Linked DNA regions of Homo sapiens: regions 2, 3, 4, 5 and 6 are each linked to region 1. The links come from fine-mapping of genetic effects on gene expression. A gene starts in region 1. Each other region holds a variant in brackets. All regions are shown on one strand. Distances are between the middles of the regions.

Region 1 (4,000 bases):
ACTAGCAATTAACAATCTCAAAATGAATTAAAATTCCATTTACAATAGTATCAAACATAAATTATTTAGAAATAAAAAGTGCACTGAAAACTACAAAATATTTTGAAATAAATCAGAAAAGATTTAAGTAAATGGATCACTTGAACCTGGGAAGCAGAGGTTGCAGTGTGCCGAGATTGTACCACTGCACTTTAGCCTGGGCAACAGAGGGAGACTCCAAAGAGTCGAAAAGAAAAGAAAAGATTTAAATAAGCTGAAACATATTCTATGGATCAGAAGACTTAATATTGTTAAAGTGACAATATTCCCCAAATTGATCTACAGCTTCAACTCAACCCCTATCAAAATCCTAGCTTGCTTTTTGGCTGAAATTGACAAGCTGATTCTATAATTTATATGGAATCTCAAAGGATCCAGAATAACCAAAACAATATTGAAAAATAAAGAACAGCGTTGGTGGATTAACATTTTCCAATTTCAAAACTTACTATAGCACTGCGGTAATCAAGCAGTGTGGCACTGTATAGCATGTACATTACAGATCAGTGGACTAGAATCAATGTCCAGAAATAAACCGTTATGTTTATAATGAATTACTTTTTAATAAGGTGTCAAGACAACGCAATGGGAAAAGAATAATGAATTCAACAAATGATGCATGGACAACCGGACATGCACATGCAACACAATGAATTTGAATTCTTCTATCGCTCCATGCATAAAAACTAACTCAAAATGGGTCACGGATGTAAATGAAAAGCTAAAACTATAATAATCCTAGAGGAAAACCTAGGAGTAAATCTTTAAGATGTTATTGTAGGCAGTGGTTTCTCAGATAGGACCCCAAAATCACAAGCGACAAAAGAAATTGGACTTAAAGTTAAATACTTTTGTGCTTCAAACATCATCAAGAAAGTGAAAACACAACCCGCAGAAGCAATAAAAATGTCTGTAAGTCATGTATCCGATTAGAGACTTCTATCCAGGATATATAAATAATGCAATTCAATGATAAAAAAGATAAATAGCCCAGTTTTCCAAAGAGTCAAGCATCTGAATATACATCTCTCCAAAAATATACAGATATCCAACAAGCATGTGAAAAGATGTTCAAAGCCATTTGCCAGGTGCACAAACCCAAGACAGTATGAGGAGATGCTACAGGGACTCTGCTGCTTCACAGACATGAAGCGTTGGTGAGAATGTAGGCAGCCGCCTTTGGGGACTTCACATCCCCGCCGCCCCACGCACGGTGAGCTAGTGTTTAAACTTAGCCGAGATCAATACACGCGACTGTGTGCCCGTCAGACCCTGCGCTGCCGGCGGGGCTGGGAGAGGCGGGCGCCAGGAGTGGGCGGGAACCTGGGGGTCAGGCCCCAGCCGCGGGAAGCCGCCCAGGAGCGCGCGAAACCTTCTCCACACCCTTCCAGGCATTTGCCCGCCGCGATTCAGAGAGCCGACCCGTGACCCCTGGCCTCCCCTAGACAGCCCCGCATGTCCAGATGTGCCGTCCCGCCTGCCTCCCGCGACCACTGGCCATCTCTGGGCCTGGGCGCGGTCTCGGCGCCCGCCTGCCCCCGCCAGGAGCCGCAGGTCCAGCCAGTGAAGAAGCCCGCGCTGAAGGAGCCTCTGTGCTCCAGAATCCATCCTCAGTATCAGCGCTGGGGTGGCCTCCTCCAGGAAGCCCTTCTGATTCTCTCATGGGTCGCTCTTCCTCTGCAGACTCCCGGAGCACCCCTGCTCCAAGTACCGCAAGTGGCACTGAGAACTTGGGGAGAGCAGAGGCTGTGCCTAGATTTGTAGGGAGTCCCCGCAGCTCCACCCCAGGGCCTACAGGAGCCTGGCCTTGGGCGAAGCCGAGGCAGGCAGGCAGGGCAAAGGGTGGAAGCAATTCAGGAGAGAACGAGTGAACGAATGGATGAGGGGTGGCAGCCGAGGTTGCCCCAGTCCCCTGGCTGCAGGAACAGACACCTCGCTGAGGAGAGACCCAGGAGCGAGGCCCCTGCCCCGCCCGAGGCGAGGTCCCGCCCAGTCGGCGCCGCGTGAAGAGTGGGAGAGAAGTACTGCGGGGGCGGGGGCGGGGGCGGGGGCGGGGGCGGGGGCAGCCGGGAGCCTGGAGCCAGACCGGGGCGGGGCCGGGACCGGGGCCAGGGACCAGTGGTGGGAGGAGGCTGCGGCGCTAGATGCGGACACCTGGACCGCCGCGCCGAGGCTCCCGGCGCTCGCTGCTCCCGCGGCCCGCGCCATGCCCTCCTACACGGTCACCGTGGCCACTGGCAGCCAGTGGTTCGCCGGCACTGACGACTACATCTACCTCAGCCTCGTGGGCTCGGCGGGCTGCAGCGAGAAGCACCTGCTGGACAAGCCCTTCTACAACGACTTCGAGCGTGGCGCGGTGAGCGCGGGCGGGGCACGGGTGGAGCGCGGGCTGAGGTGCGTCCGGGACCCGGTTTGGACGGCAGAGGCCTGGGCGGGGGCGCCGAGGGCCCGTCGGGGCGGCCCGGACAGGACTGGGGGTGTCCAGGACCCTGTCAGGGAGGGCAGAACTGCGGTGGGGCGTGCCCTGGGCTCCCAGTGGCCGGTGGGTACCCTGGTGGGCAAGCGTCCAGGACCCCTCGCGGCGGCCGCGACCCCTGTCGGAAACGGAGACTTCCCGCGTGCCGCCTGCAAGGCGTCTTCCCTGGGAGGAGAAGGCCCAAGGTTTCCCCTCCACTTCAAGATCTGGGCTCCGAGGCTCCGGAGCCCCCTTCACTGGGCCGCGTTTCTTGTGCCACCTCTTCCTTAGGCTCCTTCTGCAGGTCGCACAGGGAGGGAGAGGCAGATGAGTCATGCTCACAGAACTCTGAGGGCACCTCGGAGCAGCCAGCTGTGAGCCGTGGGGAAGGGTGCACGTCAGCGGGTCCAGAGGCCTGAGTTCTGTCCAGACATGACCACCAGCTCACTCTACCGTCTGTCTGGGCCTCAGTTTCCCCAGCTGAAAATGGAGGGTTGGCTTCAGTCTGGTCCATGAGTCATGGGTGAGCCCAGGCCCATCTGGTGGCTCAGACGGCACCTGGGCAGCTTACATTCTCAGGACAGTCCCCAGAGGAAATTAAAGGGAAGGAACAGAACCCAGGCCAGGAGAGGCTTTTCCTAAATGGAGGGGCTGCACTCCCTCCCAGCAGAATGTACACCAGGGAACACTTCCACGCTAGGTGTGAGGACGCGAGGGAGCCCTCAGCATTTGGAAGCTAGTTCCTAATGCTGATCTGGACCTGAATTCCAGCCCCACGACTCTTTTCCATGAGCATGGGCAGGTCGCAGTTCTCACTGAGCCTTTAATGAAGTGCCTAATCCAGTACCTGGCACAGAGGAAGCGCTCCGTAAATGACTGGTAATAGTCCCAGACATACTGCAGGTGCGCAGGGAATATCAGTTCCCTTCCACCCCACCCCAGCTCCTAACTGGACCAAAAAGATTTAGACTTTACCAAGCTGCCTTCTCACCATTTAGTTTATTATTTGATCAAACCTTGTGAAATTGCTCATAATGGACAAATACAACCGGCAAGTTCATGTTTCAACTGATTACTCTTGGATAAAATTTGTGTTTTAGGTGTGCAGAGCCTAAAGTAAGTAAAAACTACTCTTTTTCTGGATTCCAAGCTCTCCATGGGCTCGATTCCTATCCAGGAGCCCATACCCTCGCTGTAGCACGACATGGCCCTCAGCCAAGTTCACTAGCATCCTGGCTTGAGCTCCCTTCAAGAAGAGTTAGGTGTTGAGTACAAGAGCAACCTTCAGTTGCTTAGTTGCCCCAGTCGGGGAACTGACCCTGAGGACTGCGGTGCCCTGGAGTTAATGTGTCGTCCATTTAGGGTGATGGCACCCTCTGCCATTTCTGACGCACCTTCATTTACTTCCATTATTTCATGGATTCCCCACACCTGGGGGAGAAGGACAGGGTACAGGCTACTTCCCCTTTGTAAGTGCTTCCTCCTCCCCATTCTCCTCCACACATC
Region 2 (4,000 bases), 22 kb after region 1:
GTCATCCCCATCAAACTACCAATGACTTTCTTCTCAGAATTGGAAAAATCTACGTTAAAGTTCATATGGAACCAAAAAAGAGCCCGCATTGCCAAGACAATCCTAAGCCAAAAGAACAAAGCTGGAGGCATCATGCTACCTGACTTCAAACTATACTACAAGGCTACAGTAACCAAAACAGCATGGTACTGGTACCAAAACAGAGATATAGACCAATGGAACAGAACAGAGCCCTCAGAAATGACACCACACATCTACAACCATCTGATCTTTGACAAACCTGACAAAAACAAGCAATGGGGAAAGGATTCCCTATTTAATAAATGGTGCTGGGAAAACTGGCTAGCCATAGGTAGACAGCTGAAGCTGGATCCCTTCCTTACACCTTATACAAAAATTAATTCAAGGTGGATTAAAGACTTAAATGTTAGACCTAAAACCATCAAAACCCTAGAGGAAAACCTAGGCAATACCATTCAGGACATAAGCATGGGCAAGGACTTCATGTCTAAAACACCAAAAGCAATGGCAACAAAAGCCAAAATGGACAAATGGGATCTAATTAAACTAAAGAGCTTCTGCACAGCAAAAGAAACTACCATCAGAGTGAACAGGCAACCTACAGAATGGGAAAAAAATTTTGCAATCTACTCATCTGACAAAGGGCTAATATCCAGAATCTACAAACAACTCAAACAAATTTACAAGAAAAAAACAAACAACCCCATCAAAAAGTGGGCGAAGGATATGAACAGACACTTCTCAAAAGAAGACGTTTATGCAGCCAACAGACACATGAAAAAATGCTCATCATCACTGGCCATCAGAGAAATGCAAATCAAAACCATAATGATATACCATCTCACACCAGTTACAATGGCAATCATTAAAAAGTCAGGAAACAACAGGTGCTGGAGAGGGTGTGGAGAAATGGGAACACTTTTATACTGTTGGTGGGACTGTAAACTAGTTCAACCTTTGTGGAAGACACTGTGGCAATTCCTCAGGGATCTAGAACTAGAAATACCATTTGACCCAGCCATCCCATTACTGGGTATATACCCAAAGGATTATAAATCATGCTGCTATAAAGACACATGCACACGTATGTTTATTGCAGCACTATTCACAATAGCAAAGACTTGGAACCAACCCAAATGTCCATCAATGATAGACTGAATTAAGAAAATGTGGCACATATACACCATGGAATACTATGCAGCCATAAAAAAGGATGAATTCATGTCCTTTGTAGGGACATGGATGAAGCTGGAAATCACCCTTCTCAGCAAACTATCGCAAGGACAAAAAAACAAACACTACATGTTCTCACTCATAGGTGGGAATTGAACAATGAGAACACTTGGACACAGGAAGGGGAACATCACACACCAAGGTCTGTCATGGGGTGGGGGTAAGGGGGAGGGATAGCATTAGGAGATATAACTAATGTAAATGACGAGTTAATGGGTGCAGCACACCAACATGACACATGTATACATATGTAACAAACCTGCACGTTGTGCACATGTATCCTAGAACTTAAAGTAGAATTAAAAAAAAAAAAAGAAAATTCACTAATTAGGTGTGTGACCTTGGGTAAAGTTCAAGAGCAAAGCTACACAACTTCCCTAAGCCTCAGTTTCTTCATCATTAATTGGGGAAGTGCTCTGAGGCTCAAATGAGGTCATGCACATAAAGCACTCGGCATGGGC[A/G]GGGCATCTGAGGGAAGCCTGAACACTTGGCATTGGGCATTGTTATTGTTCTTCCTCAGGCTCCTCTCATGTTGTTCTTTCTTTACAGCAAAGTTGGCCCGAGATGACCAAATTCACATTCTCAAGCAACACCGACGTAAAGAACTGGAAACACGGCAAAAACAATATCGGTGAGTTATGACATCAGATCGAGTGGCCACGGGGCCATGGTTTCTTCTATCTCAAGAGCATGGTATGAAATAAACCCTTTCCACAGTGTATGGCCTGTCACTGCTGGAAAGTCACCAAGGCACCAGCTCCCAGTGTGGGTGCACAATCCCCAAACTTCACCTTACCTACAACTCCAGACAAGAGATGGAGAGGAGAGTAATGAAAATAACTTTGGATCAACCATATTGGCATGTAGGAAGAATGGGCAGAAAAGCTTGAGTGTACCTTAATGTTCTCCATTGTAGGGGTTGCCTCTTACTTCTTATGTCTTCTTATAACAATTCAATTATAAAAGTGATACATGATCAGCAATAAAATTGACAACTCTTCAGCCAACTGACCAGAGGATTCAAACCATTAAAATGAGCAATAAGAGAAAATCAATACAGAAATTAAAATGAATAAAAAAGGAAAAATGAGACTCATAAAATGAGGGAAAATCAATACAGAAATTAAAATTAATAAAAAAGAATACTATGAACAATTGCATGCCAACAAACTAGTTAAATGAAATGCGCAAATTCCTAGAAAGACGCAAACTGCCAAAACTGACTCATGAAGAAATAGTTAATCTGAATAAAACAATCACAACCAAAGAGATTGAATTACTAATTCTAAAATTTCCCACAAATAGAAGCCCAGACCCAGATAGCTTCACTGGCTAATTCTATCAAACATTTAAAGAATTAATACTGATCTTGCATAAACTCTTTTAAGAAATAGAAGGAACACTTCCCAATTCATTGTCTCATACCCATATTATACCAAAACTAAAGGCATCACAAGAAAACTATAAACCAATATCCCTTAGCAATATAGATATAAACATTTTCAACGAAATACTAGCAAACCTAACCCAGAAGTATATAAAAGGCATTAAACAATATGAACATGTGGGATTTAGCCCAGGAATGCAAAGTTGGTTTAACATCCAAAAATCAATTAATTGAATTCACCATATCAATAGAGTAAATAACAAAACAAAACAAAGTACATAATCATTTCAATAGACATACAAAAAAGGCATTTGACAAAATCCAACACCCATTCATGATAAAACACTCAAAAAATAGGAATTGAAGAAAATGTCCTCAACCTGATAAAGGTTTGAAAATTCACAATTAGGCTGGGCGTGGTGGTTCACACCTGTAATCCCAGCACTTTGGGAGGCCAAGGCGGGTGGATCACGATGTCAAGAGATTGAGACCATCCTGGCCAACATGGTGAAACCCCGTCTATACTAAAATACAAAAAGTAGCTGTGTGTGGTGGCATGCGCCTGTAGTCCCAGCTACTCAGGAGGCTGAGGCAGGAGAATCACTTGAACCCAGAAGGCGGAGGTTGCAGTGAGCTGAGATCATGCCACTGCACTCCAGCATGGTGACAAGCAAGACTCCGTCCCCCCACATACACAAAAAAAGAAAATTCACAGTTAACATTATACTTAATGATGAAAGGCTGAATCCAGAAACAGGATAAAGATGTTCACTTTTGCTACTTCTATTCAACATTGTACTGGAGGGTCTAGCCAGCTCAGTTAGGGAATAAAAAGATAAGTAAAGGCACCCACAATGGAGTACAGTAAGTAAAACTACCACAATTTACAAATAACATGATCTTATATATAGAAAATCTGAAGGCATTCACCAAAAGAAATTATTAGAACTAATAAACCACCAAGATTGCAAGATACAAGATAATCAATTGTTTTTCTATACATTAACAACCAACTATGTGAAATAAAAGTAAGAAAAAGTTCAATTTACAATAGCATCAAAAACAGTAAACATTTATGAATAAATTTAACAAAGTAGTCTGAGACTTGTACAATGAAACTACAAAACATTGTTTAACATTATTAAAGAAGATCTAAATAGGTTGAAAGACATTTCATGTTCATGAATCAGAGGACTTAATTTTGTTAAAATGGCAATACCCCACAAATTAATGTACACGTTCAACACAACCCTTATCAAAATTCTAGCTGATTTCTTTGCAGAAATTGACAAGCTGTCAATTCTGCAAATTCATATGGAAATGGAAGGGACCCAGAATAGCCAAAACAATCTTGATAAA
Region 3 (4,000 bases), 210 kb after region 1:
ATAGTAAATAAAACTCAACCTGCAAAGGAATACTACATCATTATTAAAAGAATGCGGATCTGTATGTATTGATCTAGGTGAAAAAGCATATTTCAAAATATAGTATGTAGTATGATGCTACTTTTATTAAAATACCCAGTATAACTAGATGAGACTTTTTCTTTATGTACTTACAGTATTTGACTTTTTTAGCATTGTGACATTACCTGTGTAGCTCTTTTAAAGACAATAAAGACATATGCTTGTCAGATTGGATAAAAGCAGTAACAAAAGAAAGCAAAAAAGAATGGAGGGAAGGTGATGGCACGCGCCTGCAATCCCAGCTACTCCGGAGGCTGAGGCAGAGAATTGCTTAAACCTGGAGGGGCGGAGGTTGCAGTGAGCCAAGATCGTGCCACTGCACTCCAGCCTGGGTGACAGAGCGAGACTTCATTTCCAAAAAAAAAAAAAAAAAAAAAGGAGGAAAGGAAAGAATCTACTTTTTGTAAGTCTATATAGTAAAACAGGGAAGATGCACATGATTTCCACTTCTAGATTCTACCAACATATATACAATCATATATATATATATATATATATATATATATATATATATATATCAAGAAATTCTCTCACACATTCACAAGAACTAAGAAACAATCTAAATTTTCATCAATGAAAGAATGAACAAATTGTGATCTATTCATACAATAAAACACCATACAGTAGTTATTAAAACTCAAACCACAAAAGCACAAATCTGAGGGAAAATCTCACATGTTAGAGAATACATACAGAATAAAATTATTTATGTAAAACTTTTTAAAAAGCAACAAAATAAAACTATCTTTACTTATGGATAAATATGGACCCACAGATTATGGACCCACAGATTAAAAACACCATGAGATACCACTTCTCAGCCTAAATATCTGACAATATTAAGTGACAATATTAAGGACATGGAACAAGAACTCCAATGTCTGCTAAGGTAAATGCATACTGGTACCACCACTATGGAAAACAACATTATATACAGTGGTAGTCAGAAATCTAAAGATAGTCCTCCAAGATTCCTGCCCCTGGTTATTCAAACACTAATTTGAGTATAGCTGTGAAAGGACCACGGAGATAAAATAGAGTAATCTAGATTATCCCAGTGGACCCAATCAAATCATATGAGCCCTTAAAAGCAGAGAATGGTCTCCATCTAGAGAAGGAAAAAAATATGAGTCAGAGAGATTCAAAGCATGAGAGAGATTCAACCTCCTATTGCCGGCTTTGAAGATGAAGAAAGAAAGAGGATCACAAGGCAAGAAATGTATGGCCTGTAGAAGCTGAGAACGACCATCAGCTAACATCCAGCAAGGACACATGGACCTCAGTCCTACAACCATATGAACTGAATTCTACCAACAACCCAAATAAGTGTGGGAGTTGATTTATCTCCAGAGCCTCCAGAAAAGAATGCAGTCCTACTGACAACTTGATTTCAGCCTCCTAAGACCCAGAGCAGATAACCCAGCCAAGCCTACTGCATTTCTGACCTATAGGACCATGAGATTTTAAAATGTGTGTTGTTTTAAGCCTCTAAGTTTGTGGTAATTAGTTACACAGCAACAGAAAACTACTACTTCTAGAAAAGTTGAAGAAATGCATTATCCTACAACCCAGCAGCTATACACCTGACCATACACAAAGAGAAACTCTTGCCCAAGAGCATAAAAAGACATGCACAATGTTCACATCACCACTGCTCATGATAGAAAAAAAATGGACAATCCAGTCATTCATCAGTACTACAAAGGACAAATTGTGGAATATTCATAATGTAACACAATAAGACAAGGAGACACCAATGAACTACGGCCATACAAAAATATGAATGAGTCTCAAATCTCATACGGAATAAAAAAGCAAATGAAAGAAGTTTACCCACAATACAATTCTAGTCATAAAGTTCAACAGCATGCAGGGCAAAACAACACAGCTTAGAGATACAAATGTGGTAAAACTATAGCAATGAAATAATAAAAACAAAATTCAGGGTAGCAGTTATGTCTCTGGGAACATAACAGAATGGGATCAGAGAAGAGAGATGAAGGGCATCAAAAGTAATGTAGATTGTTCCTAACTGGTGATTACAGAATAACAGCACTTACATTCTATACATAATTTATAAATATTGTAATATCTATTCAATATTTGAAAAATGAAAACATCTAGATAATCAAACTTCTACATAACAAAAAAAACTTCTTTTCTTTGGCAAAGATGTGTTCATTGAAAGGAATAATTCAAATGATATAAAGAGTCCAATCATTTTTTTAATCACCTAAAATTCTCACCACCTGGACATAATTA[G/A]TAACAATTTGCTTAACATCCTTCTAGACATTTCCTATGAGTATACATACATTTAAATATTTTACATAAAATCTCAGTATATATACACATAGGTATATGTTCAGTCTGTAAATGCTTTTTAGACCCTTTTTAAAAACAACTCTATTAAGACATAATTTACATAAAATAAAATGCACCCATCTTAAGCATAATGTGAAGTTCTGACAAAAGTGTATAAAAAGTGTATACGTAGTATAACCACCACCCAATCAAAATACAGAGTAATTCCATCACCACAGAAAGTTCTCTTTTGCTCCTCTGCAGTCATTCCCCACCCCTACCTATAACCTCAGGCAACCACTAATCTGCTCTCTTAATGTTTTGGTGGTTCTAGAATTACACATCAATCAAATCATACAGAATGTAGTGTTTTGTCTGGCTTCTTTTGCTCAGCATAATGTTTTTAATTTCATATAGTGACACTGTGCAATTCACTCCTTTTTTCTCCTAATATCCCATTGCAGACTTGTTGAAAGATTATACTCTTTCCGGTGTTAAGCACTGAGTACAAGTCATTTGTGAATTTAAGGTTTTATTTTACACCCAGGGGTGTAAATGTCTAGGTCATACAGTAAGTGCATGTTTAAGTTAATAGGAAACTGTCAAACAGTTTTCCAAAGTGCCTGTACATTCCTATCAGCAATTTATGTAAAATTCTGATTGCTCTACATCCTCACCAACACTTGGTATTGTTAGTCTTTTTCATTTTGACCCTTCTTGTAGGCAAAAAGTTGCTCATAATTTCCTTTAATAAATATATTGGGAATTTTTAGTATGTCTACTAGAATTTCAAATACCTTATTTTGTGAAGTTGCTCCACAAATTTTTTTTTTACCGATTTTGCAATTTGAGTTCTCTAGCTTCTTCTTAATTTACTGAAGTTCTTTATATATGCTGGATAAAAGTCCTCTGTCAGATACATAAATTGCCAACATTTGCTCCCAGTCTATAGTATACTGTTTCTTTTCCTTAACATCTCCTAAAGTGCATACGTTTTAATTTTATTAAGTCCAATTTAACATTTTTAAAATGTTGTAGTTAGTGCTTTTTGTACCACATATAAGACTAAATGCTTTCTCCCTCAAATTGACAACAGGACATGGACATCTGCTCTCACCACTTCTATCATAATATTGGACTTGAGGTCCTCATCAGTGTCATAAGGCAAGAAAAAGAAATAGAAAGCACATGAGTGGAAAGGAAGACGTAAAACTGTCTTTATTCAATGACTGTATGTGGAGAAAATCCAACCAAAAGACTACCAGAACTAGTAAGTGGATTCAGAAAGGCTACAAGACACAAAGACAATATACAAAAATCAGCTGTATTTTTACACATTAGCAAGGAATACTTGAGAAATGATTTTTTAATCCTATTTACAATGACATTAAAAATGTAAGATATTAAGATATAAATTCAACAAAATATGCATAGGACCTGTACACTGCAAAACTAAAAAACATGTTGCAAGAAATTAAAGAACTAAATAAATGGAGAGCTATACCATGTTCATGTATTGAAAGGTTCGATGACATTAAAATAGCAATTCTCCACAAACTGATCTATAGAACCAAGACAATCCCAATTGAAACCACAAGTTGTTTTCTTTTTTAAAAAA
Region 4 (4,000 bases), 23 kb before region 1:
AAGAATGATCAATAAATACTAAAAAAACAAATTAATTAATTAAATAAATTTCATATGGAACCAAAAAAGAGCCTGCATTGCCAAGTCAATCTTAAGCCAAAGGAACAAAGCTGGAGGCATCACACTACCTGACTTCAAACTATACTACAAGGCTACAGTAACCAAAACAGCACGGTACTGGTACCAAAACAGAGGTATAGACCAATGGAACAGAACAGAGCCTTCAGTAATAATGCCACATATGTACAACTATCTGATCTTTGACAAACCTGACAAAAACAAGAAATGGGGAAAGGATTCCCTATTTCATAAATGGTGTTGGGAAAACTGGCTAGCCAATAAATGGTGTAGGGAAAACTGGCTAGCCATATGTAGAAAGCTGAAACTGGATCCCTTCCTTACATCTTATACAAAAATTAATTCAAGATGGATTAAAGACTTACATGTTAGACCTAAAACCATAAAAACCCTAGAAGAAAACCTAGGCAATACCATTCAGGACATAGGCATGGGCAAGGACTTCATGCCTAAAACACCAAAAGCAATGGCAATGAAAGCCAAAATTGACAAATGGGATCTAATTAAACTAAAGAGCTTCTGCACAGCAAAAGAAACTACCATCAGAGTGAACAGGCAACCCACAGAATGGGAGAAAATTTTTGCAATCTACTCATCTGACAAAGGGCTAATATCCAGACTCTACAATGAACTCAAACAAATTTACAAGAAAAAAACAAACAACCCCATCAAAATGTGGGCCAAGGAAAAGAACAGACACTTCTCAAAAGAAGGCATTTATGCAGCCAAAAGACACATGAAAAAATGCTCATCATCACTGGCCATCAGAGAAATGCAAATCAAAACCACAATGAGATACCATCTCACACCAGTTAGAATGGTGATCGTTAAAAAGTCAGGAAACAACAGGTGCTGGAGAGGATATGGAGAAATAGGAATACTTTTACACTGTTGGTGGGACTGTAAACTAGTTCAACCATTGTGGAAGTCAGTGTGGCGATTCCTCAGGGATCTAGAACTAGAAATACCATTTGACCCAGCAATCCCATTACTGGGTATATACCCAAAGTATTATAAATCATGCTGCTATAAAGACACATGCACACATATGTTTATTGTGGCACTATTCACAAGAGCAAAGACTTGGAACCAACCCAAATGTCCAACAATGATAGACTGGATTAAGAAAATGTGGCACTTATACACCATGGAATACCAAGCAGCCATAAAAAATGATGAGTTCATGTCCTTTGTAGGGACATGGATGAAGCTAGAAACCATCATTCTCAGCAAACTATTGCAAGGACAAAAAACCAAACACTGCATGTTCTCACTCATAGGTGGGAATTGAACAATGAGAACACATGGACACAGGAAGGGGAACATCACACACTGGAGCCTGCTGTGGGGTGGGGGGTTGGGGGAGGGATAGCATTAGGAGATATACCTAATGCTAAATGACGAGTTAATGGGTGCAGCACACCAACATGGCACATGTATACATATGTAACTAACCTGCATGTTGTGCACATGTACCCTAAAACCTAAAGTATAATAA[TA/T]AAAAAATAAGCTTATAAAATGCTTTTAATGCTATATAACTTTATAACTCTGAAAGAATAATAGATTTGTATTATGCTGTCAGTGAGTAGGTCTATTAAGTGATAACATTAAACACAAATACCACCATTTATAAAGTATGATTTTGATATCATCGGTTGTGTATTTTCACCCCAAACTCTGTAGATAGTAACTTTGTTTTCTCATTTGACCATGCTCAATCTTTAGAGACCATGCTCTTCTCTCAAAATGACTGTAGGTTCATCCAAGTATGTTTGCTACCCAAAATCAATGAAACACAGTCACAACTATGTCTGTCTAGGAATAAAGCCAGCTAATTAGATTCTTATTCTAAGGAACAAGAAGAGGGCAGGTAAGAATTTGATTATGGCAGAATTCTGACCATAATCAATAACTGTTTTCTATTTTTTCTCCATGTTGTCGGGTGGTTCATACCTGACTTTCATCATTTCCAATGATTCCTGTTTGTTTTGTTTATAAATTTCAAAATCATCATGAAAAGTTTCACTGAATGAAAACCTGAAAATTGGGAAATAAACATTTTTCTGCAAAAAAAAAAAAACAATGAACACTGACTTCTCCTATTTCTCAAAGTCATCTCAAAGCCATATGAGGATTACCACAAACTTGCAGGTGAGAAAATTCTTTGCAATGTAAGAAGTGCCATGCAAATTAGTTGATGCTATTATAATTAGTCTCAGGGATCAAAAATGCTTGAACCCTAAATCTAACACTTCAAAGGAAAGCATTATTTTTCATTCATTTTACAAGTTACACCTCCCTTCTTCCCCACATCTTTGTTTAGAATCTGGACCCTGAAGTTAGAGGACCAAGATTCAAATCCCAGCCTCATCAGTACTAGCTATGTGATATTGGGAATGTTACTTGATCCCTGCTTATCTTACTTTCTGCATTTATTAAATGGGGATGAGAATAATATCTACCCAAATAAGGTGCCCAATGCAGTGCCCAACAGCATGAAGCCCAATAAAGGTTAGTTAACATCACATCCATAATTGACACCTTTAGGTATTAGATTTTCATCATCCCAGAACATTTTCCTTCTTTAAGCCTTTTTCTTTCTAAGTGGCACTTTCTTGGATACTGATTGCACTCCTCACAAACTTGAAACGTTCAAACACACAAGATGCCATTTAGGAGACATTGGAACTTGGGTTTCCTTCTCTGTAAAACTGAGTAATGACAGTCACCTCCCAGGGCTGTTGTAAGAATGAATGAGCTAGAGTATGTAAAATATCTTAGCACAGAGTGCTTAAGAAATTATTAGTTCCAGCCAAGCGTGGTGGCTCACGCCTGTAATCCCAGCACTTAGGGAGGCCAAGGCAGGCGGCTCATCTGGGGTCAGGAGTTCAAGACCACCTGGTCAACATGGTGAAACCCCGTCTCTACTAAAAATACAAAAATTAGCCAGGCGTGGTGGCATGTGCATGTAATCCCAGCTACTCAGGAGGCTGAGACAGGAGAATCACTTGAACCCAGGAGGTGGAGGTTGCAGTGAGCCGAGATCGTGCCATTGCACTCCAGCCTGGGCAACAAGAGTGAAACTCTGTCTCAAAAAAAAAAAAAAAAAAAAGAAGAAGAAGAAGAAAGAAGGAAAGAAAGAGAGAGAGAGAAAGAAAGAAAGAAAGAAAGAAAGAAAGAAAGAAAGAAAGAAAAAGAAAGAAAGAAAAGAAAGAAAGAAGGAAAGAGACAGAAAGAAAGAAGGGAAGAAAGAAAGAAAGAAAGAAAGAAAGAAAGAAAGAAAGAAAGAAAGAAAGAAAGAAGGGAAGAAAGAAAGAAAGAAAGAAAAAAAGAAAGAAAGAAAGAAAAAGAAAGAAAGAGAGAAAGAGAAAGAAAGAAAGAAAGAAAGGAGAGACAGAACGAAGGAAAGAAGGAAGGAATTATTTCCCTTTTTCCCACCCACGCCTCACCACAAACCTTGTTGTGGGGATAACATGTAAAAGTGAACAAAACTGAGAAGATCACATCGCATATCACTCAGCCTCTAGTGGGAGACACAGGCAATAAACAGGAAAAGTTAAAAACAGTACTAGGTAGTGGTGAGTGCAATTAGCCTCCCGCAGCATAAAGGGAGGAGAATAACCAGTGGCTCTTTCATGCAGAGAATCAGGGTAGACCTCTGGGGAGAGACCCGCACTCAGACTGGGATGGAATTATTTATTTTATGCGTGTTCAGTTAGGAGTAGAGGTGCTCTGTCGTGATTATCTAATCTTGGGAGGAACAATGTCAGACGGGTTTCAAGATGAGTATGAGAATTGGTCTTCCTTCTGAAAAAACAAGAATTGAGTTCACACTAATCACAAATACATCAAGCCTATTTGAGTCTTGTGTGTGTCATGGATTGAAGTGTATCTTTCCACTTAGTCAAGAAGTTCCAATGAG
Region 5 (4,000 bases), 180 kb after region 1:
ACCTATGTTGAATACTTTGGAAAGCATCCATACAGGCATATTACTTTCCTTAAAATTTTTTGACAAATTGAGTATATATAAAACAACTATAAAAGACTAGAAAACAACACTAAAATACCAGAATCCTGGCTAGGTGCAATGGCTCATACCTGTAATCCCAGTACTTTGGGAAGCTGAGGCAGAAGGATCACTTGAGGCCAGGAGTTTGAGACCAGTCTGGGCAACACAGCAAGACCCCATCTCTACAAAAAAAATTTACATTTAAAAAAAAAGATAGAATTCTATGCTCTGACTGCTTCAGATGTTCCTAAAGTCTCAATCTACTTTAAACAGAGTGAAACTAGAAAACACAGAAGCTACTCTATAAATGTGGTTTTTACAAGAACAATAATACAGAACTGAGAGGACCCATAATACTCAAAGAAAGATTACTACCCTAGATCACAAGACTGGCCTTTTGCATCCTCCACTATTCCCAGAACAATCCATCAGTAGCAGTAACATTACGCTTGAATACTTCCTGAAGTCAAGTTGTTTTATTTAAAACTGAAATATCCCTCTAAAAGACAACAACAACAACAAAAAATAAGTATGTATATACAAGGTATTCACTGCAGCACTATTTCTAACAGCAAGACACTAAAGACAATCCAAATGTCCATTAATATGGGACTGACAATAAACTGGTAAATTCACACAATGAAATAGACAAAAAGGCATGACAAATGTCTCTATATACTTCTATGGAGTGATCAGCAGGAAAAATAGGAAGACAAAAAAGCAAGAAGAAAATTATACATAGTGTGCTACCATTCACCTAAGACGGGATTAGGAGGCAGAAACTATACGTGTGTGCACATGCATGGACATGCACACACACACACACACACTCTTGCTCATGTTTTAAATGGAATGCAGGAAAAAAAATAGAGGGAACCACAATCAGAGATGGATTTCTCTGATTCTGCCTTGTTTTACACATTTAGCTCTGGAACCATGTATATGTTTTCCATAATTGTTTAAAAAATAATTGAAAAACTGTCATCTCTAAAATTCAAAAGCAAAATGAAATGACCCTAAATATTTGTTGAATTGGTGGTATAATCATGCAAAAAGGAATTATTTCAAATGATTTAAAACAGTTTTACCAGACATCCCTATAGGAATCTATCCTAAAAATGAAAAGAATTTGGGAAAGTGCTTTTAATTCTTAAACTATTTTCAGTAATCATATTGTTAGCAGTAACACTGACAAGTAATGGTATCAATATGATTATGATCAAGAACCAAAATTTTTAGCATGAGACAAAGATAAAATTAAAGAAATTCAACAAAATCATCTGTTCCTAAGTTTATAATGGAAAAATCAGTATGAAACTCATAAAATATTTTACCTTAAAAATAACGTATTTCCTAGCCCCATTCACTGAAAAGGCCTAGAAGTAACAACCAATCTGTAGTTTCCAGACTGTGGTCACTAAATACAATTTCCCTCTGAAAGGAACCAGGGCTGGTTAAAGAAAGGGATAATTCCAGATCTATGGCTGTTAATGTACAAGATGAGCCTGGACATCTTGTCACACAAGAAAGCAAGAAGCCATCAGAAGCACCCATGCCAAAATGACCCAGGAGCTAATGTGAAGGCACTCCCATTGGCCAAAGAAGAGACAATGTGGACCAGGTGCAGTGGCTCATGCCTGTAATCTTAGCTCTTTGGGAGACTGAGGCAGGGGGATCACCGGAGGTCGGGAATTCGAGACCAGCCTGACCAAAATGGAGAATCCCATCTCTAGTAAAAATATAAAATTAGGGCCGGGCGTGGTTGCCCACACCTGTAATCCCAGTACTTTGGAAGGCCAAGACTAGCGGATTGCCTGAGGTCAAGCGTTCAAGACCAGCCTGGCCGATGTGATAAAACCCCGTCTCTACTAAAAATACAAAAATTAGCCAGGCGTAGTGGTGCGCACCTGTTGTCCCAGCTACTTGGGAGGCTGAGGCAGAAGAATTGCTTGAACCCGGAGGCAGAGGCTGAAGTGAGCTGAGATTGCGCCACTGCATTCCAGCCTGGGCGACAGAGTGAGACTCTGTCTCCAAAAATAAAAATAAGAAATAAAACATTAGCCGGGCGTAGTGGTGCATGCCTGTAATCACAGCTACTCAGGAGGCCAAGGGAAGAGAATCGCTTGAACCTAGAAGGTAGAGGTTGCAGTGAGCTGAGATCATGCCATTGCACTCCAGCCTG[G/T]GCAACAAAAGCAACACTCTTGTCTCAAGAAAAAAAGAAGGGACAATTTGATCATTAATAAGAATAACTGTGGCTGGGTAAACTGGTTTGTGCCTTATAGTCCCAGCTACCTGGGAGGGTAAGGAGAGAGGATCACTTGAGACCAGCCTGGGCAACATAGTGAGATCTATCATTAATTAATGTAATTAACTCATTAAAGAATAACTGCAATGAACTTAAGAAATCATCAAACATATTAAATTCACATGCTGGCTGGGCGTGATGGCTCACACCTGTAATCTCAGTACTTTGTGAGGCCGAGGTAGGAAAATCTCTTGAGGGCCAAGAGTTCAAGACCAGCCTGGGCAACACAGTGAGATCCCATCTCTCCAAAAACGATTTCTTTTTTAATTAGCTGTGTTTGGTGGTGCATGCCTGTGGTCCCAGCTACTTGGGAGGCTGAGGCAGGAGGATCGCTTGAGCCCAGGAGGTTGAGGCTGCAATGAGCCATGATTACACCACTGCACTCCAGCCTGAGCGACATTGTAAGACCCTGTCTCAAAAAAAAAAAAAAAGAAAAAGAAAAAGAAAAGAGTATGTGTTTATAATGATACTTTTTAAATAAAGGAAAAAGCACTGGCCATTTTTGGAAATGCTAGGGACCCTCCAAGAGTTGTAAGTAAAGAGAAAGAGTCACTCATTTAACCTGACTTCCCTGTATAAGCTATACCTCTGGGTAACTGAACAGTCTGTAAAAAGAGTCTTCTCTGTACTAGTATTCCAGCGAATAAATGAAAAAGGAATGATGAAATTAGAATTGCAACATCTTGCATGCCCATGATTAAGTAATGGATCTATGTGAAGAATAAGTGGTCACTACTGTTTCAAAGCAAAAAAATCATTTCGCAAAATTCATATATAATAGTATGAGCAAGTGCACAAGATAAACGGCATGATTTTTTCAGTAAATAACATTTCAATAAGACAGAAAATAAGGAAAACCTATAGCTTAAAAGATATTGAAGAAAACCTATCAACCGAATGTAATGTGTAGACCTTGTTTACATCCTGATGCAAACAAATCACAGTACACACAAACACACACACAAAACTGTGAAATAACTTTGGGATGATAGTGGTATTGTGTGATTCATTCTAAGAAAAACAGCCCTTATCTTTCAGTGAAAGTACTAAAATATTTACAGATAAAATGAAAAGAACAAGAATGTACCCCCAAAAATGGACTGGGAGAGGGATATAAAGAAACAAAAGACGCTATGAGTGGATGCCAGCTAGAGCCAGGCACAAGGCGGTTCACGGTATTCTTCCTTTACTTCTGTGTATGTTTTAAATTCTCCATAATAAAAGTTTTGAAACTTTGATGTATGACTGTATGTCTGTATGCTTTAATAATAAAATGTTAATGGCATATAAAATTTTTCAGGATTTCCTGCTTTATGTTAAAACGGCTTCTCCGGTTCTTTCCACAAAAGAGGCATCTGGGGGTCAAGTCCCTTATTTCTCTGAATTATCAACTTAAAGCATAGGGCCTGCTACCCAGGAAGTGCTCAATAAATGTTAAATGAACGAATTCTGTTTGCTATACTTCTCTGCTCTGCTAAACCTTCCAAAACCCTAATCTAGTGATCCAACTTGTAGTAAAGGATGAGTAAATAGAATCAAGTATTAAAAAGACAAAAAATCCAAAACCCTGTATGTACTTAACCTTTTAAGTCTATGTTCCATAAAAAAATGGTTGTTTTTTTCTTGTGGTAAAAA
Region 6 (4,000 bases), 69 kb after region 1:
TACCGCCCCACCTGCTATGGGAGGGCATCTGAGATGTGGAGTGGGAGGGATCACTGACATCCCACAGGGGGACCTGTGGCTGGGAGTGGGTGGCAGAAAGGGAGCCCTGGAGAGATGTTCTCAGAGTCAGTAATGCCCCTAAAGGAAGAAAACAGCTAGGAGCCTGCTGTTCCCCAGGACACGCGGCTGGGGCATGGGCCTGACACACGGGCCTCGCTGGCCAGCCAGTAGAGTTGGAAAAGGCAAATGAGTTCATGGTGATCCTCGGCTGATGCTGATGGCCGCCCCTGCCATCACTCTCCGTCCCTGTTCTCGAATCCTACAAGCATTGGCTGCTGGGGTGACTGCATGCTAAAAGTACCCATGTGCCTCAGTTTCCTCACCAGTAAAACAGGTCAAATAGTACAGCTGCCTTACAGAATGATGGTCAGATTAAGACAGTGAACTCAGGGAGCAAAGAGGTAAGCATTGTACAAGTGCTGGCCAGGACCCTCTGAATCATTATCATGCTTAGTAAGCATCAGAGGGGTGCAGGCCTCCAGCACTTATTCAGCAGAAAGATCAGCACCCAGCCTTCACTTCCTCCCTGCGCCCAGCATCATCCTATAGGGCAGGCCTGGGTGGGGGAGCTGCGGGTCCCTGAGGCACCAGGTCACCTGACTGGGCCCCCTCTGAGGCCTCCTCCTCTCCCCTCCCCAGCTGCTGGTGGCACACGTGAGATTCACCATTGCAATCAACACCAAGGCCCGTGAGCAGCTCATCTGCGAGTGTGGCCTCTTTGACAAGGTGGGTGCCCTCCTACCCTACTTGTTGCCTGGAAGAGCCCAGCCTGGCCGCCTTCACTCCCTATCTGAGATCTAGACACCCTTTCAGGAGGCCTGGAAGGGTGAAGGCTGGAGTCTGCTCAGAGCACTGGCTCCAGCATCCTCCTGATGTCTCCAGCCCGTGCCATTCAGCCAGGAGCACTCCTCCAGGCGCACCACCAGGTCTTCCTTCTCACTGATGGCTCCTGGTCCCCTCCTCCCACCCCTCCCCTCTCCCAGCCTCTGGGACCTGGGTGTAGACCCCCCTCTGGAACACACTCCTTATGGCCCCCTGACCTCCTACGCACCAGGAACCTGTGTCTGCCTCTTAATCTGCCACACCCCTGCCACCCTGACCTGGACCTCCCCAGCACTCTGCTTCCCGGGTCCCAACCCTCCCAACCCACTGTCTCCTGCATCGGGGACTCCAGGCCCTGCCCAGCCCTCGCATCCCTCAGGTAGCACCCCACCTCGTTTTGAGCCCTCTGTAGCCTTACCAAGCTTGGACTCTCACATGGGCCCTTGCCCCAACCTTCCTCCTTTCCCCAGCCCATTAGTGACCAGGCCAGATGACCACTGAAGTTGAGACACTGTTTGGGCTGCAAATGACAAAACCCAACTCAAACCAGCTGCAGCTGGACAAGACATGCCTTATCTCAAATACCTGGACACAATAGAGGGTCGGGGGCCTCAGCCAGAAATGGATCCAGGGACTCAAGCAATGCCCCAGGGTGCATGCACACTGGCTCCCTCTTTCTGTCTCTTTCACCTGTGTTGGCATCACACTCTCCTGCTGCAGACAGGCCCCCATGGGAGAGGGCACAGGAGCTCATCATAGTAGCTCCACCTCAGGTTCTCATGTGGCCATTATCTCCCAGCCGCATCTAAACAGAAAGTGCTGGGGGGCAGCTCTGGTTGGTCCTGCTTGGGCTGAATGCCCACCGTGGACCAATCTCTGGCACCCCAGCACCCAAGTCCTTCTTCAAAACCTCTGTGGCACCGACAGCCCAGCCCCCTGGGTGTATTTGCATGTGTGTGTGTGCACGTGGACACACATATGTGCCAGTGAGCTTGTGAGTGTGTCTGCATCACTCAGAAGCCGGGATCGGGATCAGGACCAGGATCCCTCCTTGTGGGTCTCTCCAGCCCTCACCTGAGCACACAACAGGCCCTCAACAGAGTTGCATGGGTCCTGGAAACTGAGGGTCACTGAGAGCAATGACTGAGGGTCGTGTGCTCAGCACTAGAGCAGACTTCACAGCCCAGGCCCGCTGGTGCTGGGGTCCCCCACACACCTGCCCACGCCTGCTGCCCTCCTGTGGCTGGGAGCGCACCCTTCCCTCTTGTACTCTGCAGCCCCACGGTTCAGTCCCTTGCATTGGATTGGGCGGGAGGCTCCTCCCTA[G/T]CACCTCTCCACCCGGCTGCCCTTGTCATTCTCTGCGTTAAACATCCCTCCCCCATCTCACAGGACAAGGGCTTGCACCTCTGCCTGCCTGGCCTCCTCGCCTCCCCTGGCACATTTCCTCAGGGATGGGTCTGGACAGCTGTGGGAGGAGCCACCCGCTCAGGGCACTCTACCTCCCACTCCAGGCCAACGCCACAGGGGGCGGTGGGCACGTGCAGATGGTGCAGAGGGCCATGAAGGACCTGACCTATGCCTCCCTGTGCTTTCCCGAGGCCATCAAGGCCCGGGGCATGGAGAGCAAAGAAGACATCCCCTACTACTTCTACCGGGACGACGGGCTCCTGGTGTGGGAAGCCATCAGGACGTGAGCGCCCGCGGGGCGGTGGTCCTGGGGGAGGAGCCGGGACCCCTGCCTGACTACCTGGGGCGGGCCTGGCCCCTCCACCGCTAGCGCTGAATGGGGACGGGGTGGGGGAGTCCCAGCGTCCGTGAGGGGGTTGCCGCCGGGCACCGCTCCGCAGACCTGGCTGGGTCGCCCACCCCGGCTGCGCCCCCTGAGCCAGGTTCACGGCCGAGGTGGTAGACATCTACTACGAGGGCGACCAGGTGGTGGAGGAGGACCCGGAGCTGCAGGACTTCGTGAACGATGTCTACGTGTACGGCATGCGGGGCCGCAAGTCCTCAGGTAGGGCCTCCGGGACGTCTCCGGACCCGGCTCCCCCGCAGTCGGCAGCGCTGGCCCCTCCGCCACCCCTCCGGGGTGTCCTGCCCAGGGTGCCCTCCGGCCTTGGGGCAGGGAATCCGGGCACGGGGTGGGCGCCGGGCCCTGGGGTCCTCAGGGACTGGGCCTCAGCCCGCCGGTGGTTCCACCCTAGGCTTCCCCAAGTCGGTCAAGAGCCGGGAGCAGCTGTCGGAGTACCTGACCGTGGTGATCTTCACCGCCTCCGCCCAGCACGCCGCGGTCAACTTCGGCCAGGTAGGCAGGGCCGGGCCCGCTGGGCAGGGCTCCCTTCTCAAGGCCGCTGCCTCCTCCCCCGCCCCGGTTCTGCACGCGTACTGCACCCTCGGACAGCCTCGGGGCCTGGCACGGGACTTGCAGGATGGATTCTGCCCGCTCAGCCAAGGGCGCTGGCCGCGGGGAAAGAGGATGGACGGACTGCAGGGCCCGCTGGAGTTGGGGGGCACGGGGAGGACGGGGCCCAGGGGGCAGCTGGGCAGCAGGGCTTCGGGGGTGCCCACGCTTGCTGGCGGTCGTCTCCGCAGTACGACTGGTGCTCCTGGATCCCCAATGCGCCCCCAACCATGCGAGCCCCGCCACCGACTGCCAAGGGCGTGGTGACCATTGAGCAGATCGTGGACACGCTGCCCGACCGCGGCCGCTCCTGCTGGCATCTGGGTGCAGTGTGGGCGCTGAGCCAGTTCCAGGAAAACGAGGTGAAGCTGGGCAGGGCGGGGCACAGCCCCAGGTCACCCCAGGTTAAGCGGTTCCTCAGCCTCAGGGCTTTGTGACTCGGGCCCCAAGGCTCACTTGGAGCAAAGGAATCCTGACTTCCAAGGCTGGAAGGGCCCAGAAGGCTGCAGCCGCCACCAGGTCCCCCGGCCTCAGCCTGGACAGAGCTCAGGGTGTGCAGGGCAGGAGAGCACACAGCCCAGGCTTTGCTCACTGTCACCAGAGGGTCGTGTGTGACGCCCCCTCCCCCCAGCTATTGACAAAGTTCTTGCACATGTGTTTTACCCTGGTACTCCAGAGGGAATGACCAAGAGTTTCCTGGGTTCCTTCCGGACACGTGCA

Which allele goes with the higher level. Positions count from the first base shown, and alleles are read on the strand shown. Sizes are in standard deviations (SD) of each study's normalised expression. Not every link is listed here.
With allele A in place of G in region 3, the expression in tibial nerve of the gene that starts at base 2,182 in region 1 is lower (small effect, 0.24 SD a copy in GTEx).
For the expression in cerebral cortex of the gene that starts at base 2,182 in region 1, allele T in region 4 goes with a higher level than allele TA (moderate effect, 0.69 SD a copy in GTEx).

The links. PIP is the estimated chance that this variant, and not a neighbour inherited with it, causes the effect.
Region 2: its variant is the best candidate, but not a certain one, in a credible set for the expression of ALOX5 in whole blood (TOPMed, PIP 0.50).
Region 3: its variant is the best candidate, but not a certain one, in a credible set for the expression of ALOX5 in tibial nerve (GTEx, PIP 0.53).
Region 4: its variant is the best candidate, but not a certain one, in a credible set for the expression of ALOX5 in cerebral cortex (GTEx, PIP 0.50).
Region 5: its variant is the best candidate, but not a certain one, in a credible set for the expression of ALOX5 in monocytes (TOPMed, PIP 0.52).
Region 6: its variant is the best candidate, but not a certain one, in a credible set for the expression of ALOX5 in whole blood (TOPMed, PIP 0.60).

Annotation. Positions count from the first base shown.
Region 1 is chr10:45,372,035-45,376,034 of GRCh38, forward strand. ALOX5 (arachidonate 5-lipoxygenase) reads left to right here and starts at 2,182. Exons shown (of 14, transcript NM_000698.5): 1 at 2,182-2,395. The coding sequence starts at 2,246. RefSeq lists enhancers at 1,950-2,560, 2,561-3,169.
Region 2 is chr10:45,394,052-45,398,051 of GRCh38, forward strand. ALOX5 (arachidonate 5-lipoxygenase) reads left to right here. Exons shown (of 14, transcript NM_000698.5): 3 at 1,804-1,885. Among named protein-coding and RNA genes, the nearest start is that of ALOX5, 22 kb to the left of the region's middle. The variant A/G (reference allele first, on the strand shown) is at 1,716.
Region 3 is chr10:45,583,570-45,587,569 of GRCh38, forward strand. It overlaps a transcript of MARCHF8 not described here. Among named protein-coding and RNA genes, the nearest start is that of MARCHF8, 50 kb to the left of the region's middle. The variant G/A (reference allele first, on the strand shown) is at 2,344.
Region 4 is chr10:45,349,175-45,353,174 of GRCh38, forward strand. No RefSeq gene overlaps it. Among named protein-coding and RNA genes, the nearest start is that of ALOX5, 23 kb to the right of the region's middle. The variant TA/T (reference allele first, on the strand shown) is at 1,577.
Region 5 is chr10:45,552,963-45,556,962 of GRCh38, forward strand. It overlaps a transcript of MARCHF8 not described here. Among named protein-coding and RNA genes, the nearest start is that of MARCHF8, 20 kb to the left of the region's middle. The variant G/T (reference allele first, on the strand shown) is at 2,243.
Region 6 is chr10:45,440,645-45,444,644 of GRCh38, forward strand. ALOX5 (arachidonate 5-lipoxygenase) reads left to right here. Exons shown (of 14, transcript NM_000698.5): 9 at 700-786; 10 at 2,394-2,572; 11 at 2,772-2,893; 12 at 3,084-3,184; 13 at 3,472-3,642. It overlaps LOC102724323 (a long non-coding RNA gene), which reads right to left. Exons shown (of 3, transcript NR_120674.1): 3 at 3,924-4,000. Among named protein-coding and RNA genes, the nearest start is that of ALOX5, 68 kb to the left of the region's middle. RefSeq lists a silencer at 938-1,169 and enhancers at 1,526-2,296, 2,297-3,065. The variant G/T (reference allele first, on the strand shown) is at 2,209.